Linked DNA regions of Homo sapiens. The protein of the gene in region 1 purifies or fractionates together with the protein of each later gene. This does not show direct contact. Each region holds a gene or a part of one and is shown on either strand. Other genes may lie near its edges.

Region 1 (3,652 bases):
CAGGGCTGGGCTTTAAAGCTGGATAAAGTCATTAAATCACCCCATTAGGTGTCAATACATCCAGGCAGCACACCGGTTACTATAGAAGGCAAAAGGTGCCAACATAGCCCTGTTATGCCCTACAGCGAAGAGTGGCCTTCCTAGAAAGCTCACTGGGTGGACTGCGTTGGGAGAGCAAGAGGCACGTGAGCTGGCCTGAGTTATCAGAAACCAAGGAAGGCTTGATGACTGGCCTGGCCACAGATCTACCAGCCCTGAGAGTGGAGTCAGGGCATCAGCCATATTTTACAGCCCCACTCATCCAGTCGTTAAGCTACTTGGTTTCCTGCTGAAGCTCAATTCCAGTCCCTCCAAAACTCCCTCAGCCTCCCGTCCTTTCCCAGGCCAGTTCTCATGATACAAACATTATCAATAGTTGAATATGAAGAAACCCCTTCTGCGTAGCTCCCAAGCGAGCATCAGATAGAGAGCCGCAGAATGAACTAATTTTTGGAGAAAATACTTCAGATATAGGATGGAGATGGAAGCATTCGCTCTTATTGTACATCCTCTCTGGGCATGTTTGCCATGCCATGGTTCTGGTTCGTCAGAAAGTGCAATTGAAAAAGAGTAGGGGAGGGGCCTGGACAAGTGGCTCATGGCTGTAATCCCAGGACTTTGGGAGGCCAAGGCGGGCGGATTGCCTGAGCTCAGGAGTTCAAGACCAGCCTGGGCAAAACAGTGAAACCCCATCTCTACTAAAAATACAAAAGTTAGCTGAGCGTAGTGGCGCGCGCCTGTAGTCCCAGCTACTCAGGAGGCTGAGGCAGGGGAATCGTTTGAATCCGGGAGGCAGAAGTTGCAGTGAGCCAAGATCGCGTCACTGCACTCCAGCCTGGCAACAGAGTGAGAATCCATCTCAAAAAAAAAAAAAAAGAAAAGAAAAAAAAAGAAAAAGAGTAGGGGAGGCTGTGTGTGGTGGCTCATGCCTGTAATCCCAGCACATTGGGAGGCCGAGGTGGGTGGATCACTTGAGCTCAGGAGTTCGAGACCATTTTGAGACCAGCCTGGGCAACATGGCGAAACCCACTCTCTACAAAAAAATATAAAAATTAGCCTGGCATGGTGGTGCATGCCTGTAGTCCCACCTACTTGGGGGCTGAGGCAGGAGGATTACTGGAGCCCAGGTGGTTGAGGCTGCAGTGAGCCACGTTCATGCCACTGCACTTCAGCCTGCGTGACAGAGCAAGAACTTATCTCAAAAAAAAAAAAAAAGTAGGGGAAATCAGCCCCCATGATCCCCAAAGAGCACATGTGAGGAAGATTTGTTCACTTTTTGACTACTAAAAAGTTGAGTGCACTGAGTTTCAAACTTTTTTTTCAAGCTGTAAAATCTGCAAGCAAAATACTATGTAGCAGTGCAATATATAATGCAGATTTAAATGGAGCTTCTTGTTTGGCTAAAGTAAAGATGAAGGACATTCCTGTGCCTCCCTGTTTCTCCTCCAAGGTGCCATTCCATATATCTCTCAGGTTCCTTGGAATACAGTTTGAAAACCACTGACCTAAAGCAACAGAGGACAGGGGTCTATCTGGAGCAGCTGAGAGAAGCCTATCAGCATTCCAATTTTCTATCTTCAAAAAACAAGGGAGCCTTCCCTTACCAGCCACCCAAACATTGGGCCTGTGGCTCTGTAGTCACTATGGGCCTCTGACAAAAAGCACCAGTCCTGGCCAGGTTCAGTGGCTCATGCCTGTAATCCCAGCATTTTGGGAGGCTGAGGCACATGGATCACTTAAGGTCAGGAGTTCAAGACCAGCCTGGTCAACATGGTAAAACCCTGTCTCTACTAAAAGTACAAAAATTAGCTGGGCATGGTGGTGCACCTAATCCCAGCTACTTGAGAAGCTGAAGCAGGAGAATTGCTTGAACCCGGGAGGCGGAGGTTGTAGTGAGCCAAGATCACGCCACTGCACTCCTGCTTGGGTGACAGAGCAAACTCTGTCTAAAAAAAAAAATGAAACAAAAAAAAAGTACTTGGCCGGGCATGGTGGGTGGCTCACGCCTGTAATCCCAGCACTTTGGGAGTCAGAGGCAGGAGGATCACTTGAGGCCAGGAGTTTGGGACCAACCTGGGCAACATAGTAAGACTCTATCTCAATTTTTGTTGTTGTTGTTGTTGTTGCCCAGGCTGGAGTGCAGTGGTGCGATCTTGGCTCACTACAACCTCTGCCTCCCAGATTCAAGTGATTCTCCTGCCTCGATCTCCCAAGTAGCTGGGGCTACAGGCGCGTGCCACCATGCCTGACTAATTTTTTGTATTTTCAGTAGAGACAGGGTTTCACCGTGTTAGCCAGAATGGTCTTGATCTACTGACCTGGTGATCTGCCCACCTCGGCCTCCCAAAGTGCTGGGATTACAGGCATGAGCCACCGCGCCTGGCCCTCAATTTTTAAAAATAAAAAATAAAAAAAGAAGCATCTGTCCACCCAACCCCAATCCCTGTGTGATCTCAGTTCTCACCTGCTTTGGCAAAGTCTTCCCGGTTATAACTGAAATCCTTGAGGAAGGTGATACTCTCACTCCCAGGGTTGTACCTCCGAGATGTCTCCAGAAGCATCACCTGCACACAAGCAGCAAACCTCAAACGGGGACTAGGAGGGCTGGTCTTGGAGCATGGCCTCTTCCAGGGAGGCCGATTCTCCTCATCCCTGCTTCCCAGCAGATTTGGCTCTCCCAGCTCGATGTCTGGAGGCCCCTCCCACAGATAATCCCACTCTGCTTCTCCCTTCATCCCTTGCCCTTCTCCAGCCACCTCGATCGCAGAGGTCTTCAGCAGGGCAATCTGGTCCTCCCGGCTGAGCTGCAGGAAGCCGGGTAGCTGTTTAGCAAAGTCAACTATCTCCTGCACAGAGACGATGGCCAGCTCAGTGAAGTGGGCAAAGCGCTGCTGACGGGCCTCCCGGCTATGGGGATCTGGTGCCATGGGCCAAGGCTACCCAGGAGGGAAAAGGCAAAGCGCTTTGAGTCGGACATCAAGAAGCCCACTGGTGATCTGGGCGCAGCCGCCTCTCCCCAGGTGTGTCAAGTACCGTGACTCGAAGCCGGTCAGAAAAGGAGCGCCGGTTACACTGTTGCTGGGCAGCGACGAGCTTCTCGATCATGCCCAGTTGTTCCGGGCTGAGCTGGGGCAGGATTTGGGGGGGTGAGGAAGCCCTGGGGGGCAAGGATGTGGCATGAGCCTGTTCCTCCTCTTGCCGCTTCAGTTTCTTCAGGCGGATCTGTTCTTCTGACAGGACACCTAAGGACAGGGCCAAATATGAGGAAGGGAGCAGATGGGGAAAGGATGGGGCAAGGGGGTGGGGGAAAGACAGGAGGGAAGGATGGGGCAAAGGGGGTGGTTTGGGGCTCCAGAAAAGCAGACAGCACTGGGTAAAGGCAAGAAGATTTTTTTTTTTTGAAACAGAGTCTCACACTTGCTCAGGCTGGAGTGCAGTGGCATGATCTTGGCACACTGCAACCTCCACCTCCCGTGTTCAAGTGATTCTCCTGCCTCAGTCTCTTGAGTAGCTGGGATTACAGGCGCTCACCACCACACCCGGCTAATTTTTGTATTTTTAGTAGAGTCGGGGTTTCACTATGTTGGCCAGGCTGGTCTCGGACTTCTGATCT
Region 2 (3,652 bases), on another chromosome or scaffold:
GGACCATGAGACTAATTAAAAACTGGAAAGGTTCCTACCCCTTCTGAAGCCCACACTTCCCGGGCTTACCCATCAATAACAAGTATTGAAGAGTTTGGCCATCCCAAATACCTGCATCCTCTGCTGATTTTTGAAGGGCTTCTGCTAATTCTTGGTCTGCAATCTCCTCTGGCCGTACATCCTCTCTTCCAGCCCCATATGCCAACCGGGCACACTCTGGTAGCTCTCCCTCAGGAAGAAAGGTGGTCTGGGAGCCTGTGGTGCCGATCACGAGTACATTTTTCTTCAGGTCGATGGAACACTTGGAAGAAAGAAACCAAAGAATAATAGCAGATAAAACACCATGCAGAAAAATTATGCTCCTTAATTTAAAACTCCAATCACAAATGGCCAGGCACGGTGACTCATGCCTGTAATCCCAGCACTTTGGGAGGCTGAGGAGGGCAGATCACCTGAGGTCAGGAGTTCCAGACCAGCCTGGCCAACACGGTGAAACCCCACCTCTACTAAAAATACAAAAATTAACCAGGCGTGGTGGCACATGCCCATAATCGCAGCTACTTGGGAGGCTGAGGCAGGAGAATCACTTGAACCTGCGAGGCAGAGGTTGCAGTGAGCCAAGATTGTGCCACGCAAGGCAATCTCCACAGTATTCTTTACTCCATGCTAATGCTAACTTCCTTTTTTGTGTATTTTATAACTACTTAATAGACAGTTGTGCACATATATGATTTACATCTATAAAGTTGGAGACTGCTGGTCTATACCATGACTAAAAAAATAAGGAAAGGCAGTGACAAGGTTTTATTGATACATACACTCATTCATTCATTCGTTCTATTTAGAATGCTGTGAGCCGGGCGTGGTGGCTCACGCCTGTAATCCCGGCACTTTGGGAGGCTGAGGCGGGCGGATCACGAGGTCAGGAGATCGAGACCATCCTGGCTAACAAGGTGAAACCCCGTCTCTACTACAAATACAAAAATTAGCCGGGCGTGGTGATGGGTGCCTGTAGTCCCAGCTACTCGGGAGGCTGAGGCAGGAGAATGGCGTGAACCCAGGAGGCGAAGCTTGCAGTTAGCCAAGATTGCACCACTGCACTCCAGCCTGGGCAACTGAGCGAGACGCTATCTCAAAATAAATAAATAAATAAATAAATAGAATGCTGTGTCTTATTATCAATATGATGCATCTACTTTTACAGAAATATTTTAAAATAGTGACATAAAAATATTGATTAGCTATATTTTCAATTGTTTTTAACTCAATTTTGTTTTTTGAGATGTGGTTTTGCTCTGTTACCCAGGCTGAAGTGTAGTGGCACAATCTTGACTCACTGCAGCCTGGTCTCAAGGGATCCTCTTGCCTCAGCCTCACGAGTAGCTAATGTACCACCACGCCTAGCTAATTTTTGTACTTTTTGTAGAGACAGGGTCTCACTAAGTTACCCAGACTGGTTTCAAACTCATTCTGGCCTCAAGCAATCCTCCCTCCTTGGCCTCCCAAAATGCTGGAATTACAGGCATGTACCACTGTACCTGGCAGGTTGACTGGATATAAAACCCTACTGTGAAAAATGTGAAGTACCCAGTGAGGTCTACAGCCATACCACCCTGAGCATGCCTAATCTCATCTAAATACCCAGTGGACTAACTGCTTCTTCAACGACGGCAGTATATCTCAAATTATTGTGCTTTAGAGTAGAAAGATAAATATCAACACAAATTAATATATTAATTATGCACCCTGTACTAAATAAACACTTTCACTCCCAACATATACCTTCCTTAACCTTGAAGGTCTTCTTCCCAAGTACTGTTTGATCAGCATCAGAGAATGCTAAAGACTTACTTGACTCACACTTTTTAGTCAGGTCATCAAAAAACTACTAATCAGGATCTAACCAGAATCTGAAAATTATACAAGGGAACCAAACTGTCCTTTACAATCTCAAAACATTTGGCAAGATTTAACAGATTCACAGAGAGATTTCACAAAAACAGATTCTATCTATATCGACACATCATTTCAACCTCTGTATAGCAACATAATTTAAGGACATTTCCAGGTTTGAAAAGTCGTTATTTCTTAGTTTTCCAGTATATGTAACCAATAAAAATAATGTGATAATGACCATATTACAAAAAGCAGATGCAAAAAAAATAAGTGAAGCTCTTAATTACCTGGTGCCGTTTAAGCATGTCCAGTCCCAGAAGCATGTCCATGGGCTGTTCCTCAAGTATAGAGAAGGAACATGGCAAAAAATCTCCTTCAATCTGAACCTGAGCTAAAAAGCACATGAAGAGAAAAGGTTATTGTTACGTACTTCAAAACAGAGACGGAGTTTCGCTCTTGTTGCCCAGGCTGGAGTGCAATGGCATAATCCTGGCTGATGGCAACCTCTGCCTCCCGGGTTTAAGTGATTCTCTTGCCTCAGCCTCCCAAGTAGCTGGGATTACAGGCATGTGCCACCACGCCTGGCTAATTTTGGTATTTTTAGTAGAGACGGGGTTTTGCCATGTCGGTCAGGCTGGTCTCAAACTCTTGGCCTCAGGTTATCTGCCCACCTTGGCCTCCCAAAGTGCTGGGATTACAGGTATGAGCCACCGTGTCCAGCTGAAAAGTTCTTTTCATTATTATTTTTTGAGACAGAGTCTTGCTCTGTTGCCCAGGCTGGAGTGCAGTGGCGTGATCTCGGCTCACTGCAACCTCTGCCTCCTGTGTTCTCTGATTCTCTGCCTAAACCTTCCAAGTAGATGGGATTACAAACACGCACCACCACGCCCAGCTAATTTTTACATTTTTAGTAGAGACAGGGTTTCACCATGTTAGCCAGGCTGGTCTTGAACTCCTGACCTCACGTGATCCACCCACCTTGGCCTCCCAACGTGCTGGGATTACAGGCGTGAGCCACTGCACCCAGCCAAAAACTTTTTGTAGAGATTGAGTCTCGCTATATTGACCAGGCTGGTCTTGAACTTCTGGCCTCAGGCAGTCATCCCTGCCTTGGCGTCCCAAAGTGCTGGGATTACAAGAGTGAGCCACCACACCCAGCAGATGACCTATTTTTAAAGAACTCCTTCCTTACACAAGATATTGTGTATTTTCTGCTAAAATCTTTAATTTTCCTTTCCACATCTAGGTTTTAGGGTTGTTTTTTTTTTTTTTTTTTGAGACAGGGTCTGCTACGTTGCCCAGGCTGGTCTCAAACTCCTAGGCTCAAGCAATCCTCCCTCCCCTGCATCTAGGTGTTTACTCTGAATTTGCTTTTGTGTGGTGTGGGTAGGGTCCGATTTCTAATTCATTTCTCCCCATGGATACCTCTTGTCCCAGCAACATTTCCTAACATTTCCCCATTGCTCTGTAAGACTTCCTCTCATTGATCAATGTTCATAGAATCATGGGTTTGTTTCTACTCATATCTTCTAGATAGTCCTTTGATATCTAGAAGGCAATGTTTTTCTAGAGTATTTTGCCCATTCTCACAATATAGGGCCCACGCCAAATTTAAAATGAGCACATCCAGTCTCACAAAAAATCTACCAGGATTTTGATGGCATCTCAATGGTTCTGTGGATTAATGTGGGAGAACTGCCACCCCCAACATACTGAATCTCTAATCCATGGTAAAGCTTTCCTTTTATTTAGGTTT
Region 3 (3,652 bases), on another chromosome or scaffold:
ATAAACGAATGCAGAAGAGAAGACATTTAGAAACGAGTTTCCAACAGACAGATCCGTGTTGTACTTCTGATGCACAGCCACATGCATTTCTCCTCAGTGGACCAGCTTCACCAGGTAATAACATTTCTTGTCATTTACAAAGTTTATTATTTAGAGTGGGAAAAGTCTAATCCAAGTTGTCTTTAGTCATTTAAGCTACTGTATCTCCTCTGAGTTTTAAAAAAACATTTATACAAGTAATGCATGACATCTTAAAAAATAATATGGTACAAAATAAGGAGTTACCACTGGATTCCCACTAACCAGAGACAACCACCTGCATATAATATCCCCAAAGTGGACATCCTGTAAGTACTATGATTTGTAGCCTTTATTAAAAAAAATTAACAATAGGCCAGGCACGGTGGCTCATGCCTGTAATCCCAGCACTTGGGGAGGCCGAGCGAGGTAGACAGGTCACTTGAGGTCAGGAGTTTGAGACCAGCCTGGCCAACATGGCAAAACTCTGTCTCTACTGAAAATAGAAAAATTAGCTGGGCGTGGTGGCACGCGCCTGTAGTCCCAGCCCCTCGGGAGCCTGAGGCATGAGAATCACTTGAACCCAGGAGGCGGAGGTTGCAGTGAGCTGAGATCATGCCACTGCACTCCAGCTTGGGCGACAGAGTGAGACTTTGTCTCAAAAAAAAAAATAATAACAATACTGTATGCTCCTTTGTTAGGTATAGATGTACCTTGTCATGACTGAACACTTAATGATAGATAATTCAACTTAGAAGTTTTGCTGGTATAGTATTTTAAGAACTATCCCTGTATACATACCCTGCCTCACACACTTGTCTTATTGGGCTAGATTTCTAAAGGTGGATTATTATTATTTTTTGATCCTGTATCTGTTTTTACCTACTTTTTGTTGGGGGGAATGTTTGCAAATAACCTTCCTTTTTTTTAAAAAAAAAAAAAAGGGGGGGGGCGGGGAATAAGGGCTACTTGAAGCAAAGAGAAAGTTGAAGGTTTTGCTGAGAGAGAGCCATCAATAGTGGCTCTTATCTTTAGTAAAGTTCTCAGGAAAATAGCTTTTCTTGTGACAACAGTTGCCTTTGTTCAACGCTTTCTCTCCTCCCCCTAGCAAGGGAAGGAAAACCTGGCAGAATAAAAAAATTTGCGGCTGGGCGCGGTGGCTCATGCCTGTAATCCCAGCACTTTGGGAGGCCAAGGCAGGTTTATCACGAGGTCAGGATATCGAGAACATCCTGGCTAACACAGTGAAACCCCGTCTCTACTAAAATCCAAAAAATTAGCTAGGCATGGTGGCAGGCGCCTGTAGTCTCAGCTACTGAGGTAGGAGAATGGCATGAACCCGGGAGGCAGAGCTTGCAGTGAGCAGAGATCGCGCCATTGCACTCCAACCTGGGTGACAGAATGAGACTCAAAAAAAAAAAAAAAAAAAAAATCAAAGACCATAACATAGTCAAATAAAATTAGATTAGGAAACATGAACTTGTTCAAAACTAAATACTGCCATGCCCATTGTGGGGGCCAGGTATTAGTGGTTGAAACATAGAGGTGAGGGTTGGGCACTAGACTGTATTAGCAGGAAACCAAGATCATTATTTCCTTACTCACTTTACTTAGAAGATCAGTTAACTGGCAGTCTTAAGTAACAAAGCTGGGAATGTGAAAGTAAATTAAGATGGCTTTGGATAATTATGGAATAAAGCTGGTGGGCTTTGTTATTGTGGTATGCACAGTTCTAATAAGCATAGTTAACTAGCTCCTGCCATGCAGGTTATAAGGAGCAAGTTAAGAGAGTAAGTAATATTGGTGGTACCAGGGCAAATTCACAGAGCGAGATGAAGAAACAATTGGTAACGAATGGTGCACTTGAATATGTATAAAATACTTTTAGCAGTATTACAGTAGATGTTATTACTACAAAATATTTTCTCTTTTATTAAAAATATCCTAATAGGTATAAAAATGCTGAAGGAATATTTGAAATTGACAGATGCTGATGTTGCAGCTGCTTTGGGATTCTTAGTGTGATGACAGTGTAGTTCTATGGTATAGAGTTTTGAGCATAGCATTATCAGCTCAATGCTTGAGCTTATTTTTCCATGCGAATTGTTGTTAACTTAATGGGAATTAGTGGTCAATGAGTTCAAAAACCTTTAGAATCATTTATGCTTCTCCAGCAAAGTAGATTTCAGAATGTCTTGTTTTGTTTTGTTTTGTTTTTGAGACAGGGTCTCACTCCGTTGCCCAGGCTGGAGTACAGTGGTGAGATCTTGGCTCACTGCAACCTCCACCTCAGCCTAGCCTGTAGCTAGAACTACAGGCACGTGCCACCACTCCCAGCCAATCTTTGTATTTTTATTAGAGACATGGTTTGCCATGTTGCGCAGGCTGGCCTTTAGCTCAAGGGTTCCACCTGCTTCGGCCTCCCAGAAAGTACTGGGATTACAGGTATGAGCCACCACACAAGCTAGGTTCCAGAATGTTTTTTAATCTTTTCTAAAAAGGATTCATGCTGTACCTTCTTTTTTTAAACATAAAAATTTATTGTGCCAACATGAAATTTCTTTTTTTTTTTTTTTTTCTGAGATGAAGTTTCACTCTTGTTGCCTAGGCTGGAGTGCAACGGCATGATCTCGGCTCACTGCAACCTCCGCCTCCTGTGTTCAAGCGATTCTCCTGCCTCAGCCTCCTAAGTAGCTGGGATTACAGGCATGTGCCACCACGCCTGGCTAATTTTGTATTTTTAGTAGAGACTAAGTTTCTCCATGTTGGTCAGGCTGGTCTTGAACTTCTGACCTCAGGTGATCCGCCTGCCTCGGCCTCCCAAAGTGCTGGTAATACAGGCGTGAGCCACCATGCCCGGCGTATTTTCTTTTTCAATAAAGGAAAACCCCTTTCTAAAGGTGTGAAATGATGGTAGAATAATTACCAGTTCATTGTGTGTAGGCTCTTAAGATATTAATGGTATGGCTTTGAAGACTAAGTGTCTTTTTACAGGCATAATGATTTGTTATTCTGGGACTAAATAAAATTAAATTTAGACCTGAGGTGTTCTTCATTCCTAGTGTAGGAAAGTAATTTAGTCACTAAAATACTTCATGGTATGGTATTTTCCAGAAAGGAGATAAGATGTTTTGTAATGGGACCCATCATTGTAATGTTTAAGTTTTATGTCTTTTTTAAATTTAATTTTTAATTTTTTGTTTTTATTTTTTTGAGATGGAGTTTCACTCTCTTTGCCCAGGCTGGAGTGCAATGGCGTGATCTCGGCTCACTGAAACCTCCGCCTCCCGGGTTCAAGTGATTCTCCTGCCTCAGCCTCCCGAGTAGCTGGGATTACAGGTGCCCGCCACCATGCCTGGCTAATTTTTTTATGTATTTTTAGTAGAGGCAGGGTTTCACCATGTTGGCCAGGCTGGTTTCAAACTCCTGACCTCAGGTGATCCGCCCACCTCGGCCTGATTACAGGCGGTGAGCACCACGCCCAACCTTTCTTATGTCTTAAAGTTTTTTCTACTCACCTTTAGTCTTTTTTATCTTAATTACATCTTGCCGTGTTTTTCCAGCGTCACCAGCTGATGGAATTATTATTTTGGTTGTTTTAAGACTTGTGAAATGCTGTGCTTAAAATCTGATT

The links.
Region 2: the proteins of NR1H3 (region 1) and DDI2 purify together in Homo sapiens (affinity purification with mass spectrometry; 2 studies listed by BioGRID and IntAct, with this or other methods). This does not show direct contact.
Region 3: the proteins of NR1H3 (region 1) and AKIRIN2 purify together in Homo sapiens (affinity purification with mass spectrometry; one large-scale study listed by BioGRID and IntAct). This does not show direct contact.

What each region holds. Positions count from the first base shown.
Region 1 is NC_000011.10:47,260,870-47,264,521, reverse strand, and holds part of NR1H3 (oxysterols receptor LXR-alpha), read right to left. Parts: intron 3,282-3,652; coding exon 3,073-3,281; intron 2,976-3,072; coding exon 2,796-2,975; intron 2,604-2,795; coding exon 2,504-2,603; intron 1-2,503. UniProt on the Homo sapiens protein: Nuclear receptor that exhibits a ligand-dependent transcriptional activation activity.
Region 2 is NC_000001.11:15,648,355-15,652,006, reverse strand, and holds part of DDI2 (protein DDI1 homolog 2), read right to left. Parts: intron 2,288-3,652; coding exon 2,184-2,287; intron 302-2,183; coding exon 112-301; intron 1-111. UniProt on the Homo sapiens protein: Aspartic protease that mediates the cleavage of NFE2L1/NRF1 at 'Leu-104', thereby promoting release of NFE2L1/NRF1 from the endoplasmic reticulum membrane.
Region 3 is NC_000006.12:87,678,082-87,681,733, reverse strand, and holds part of AKIRIN2 (akirin-2), read left to right. Parts: coding exon 1-114; intron 115-3,652. UniProt on the Homo sapiens protein: Molecular adapter that acts as a bridge between a variety of multiprotein complexes, and which is involved in embryonic development, immunity, myogenesis and brain development.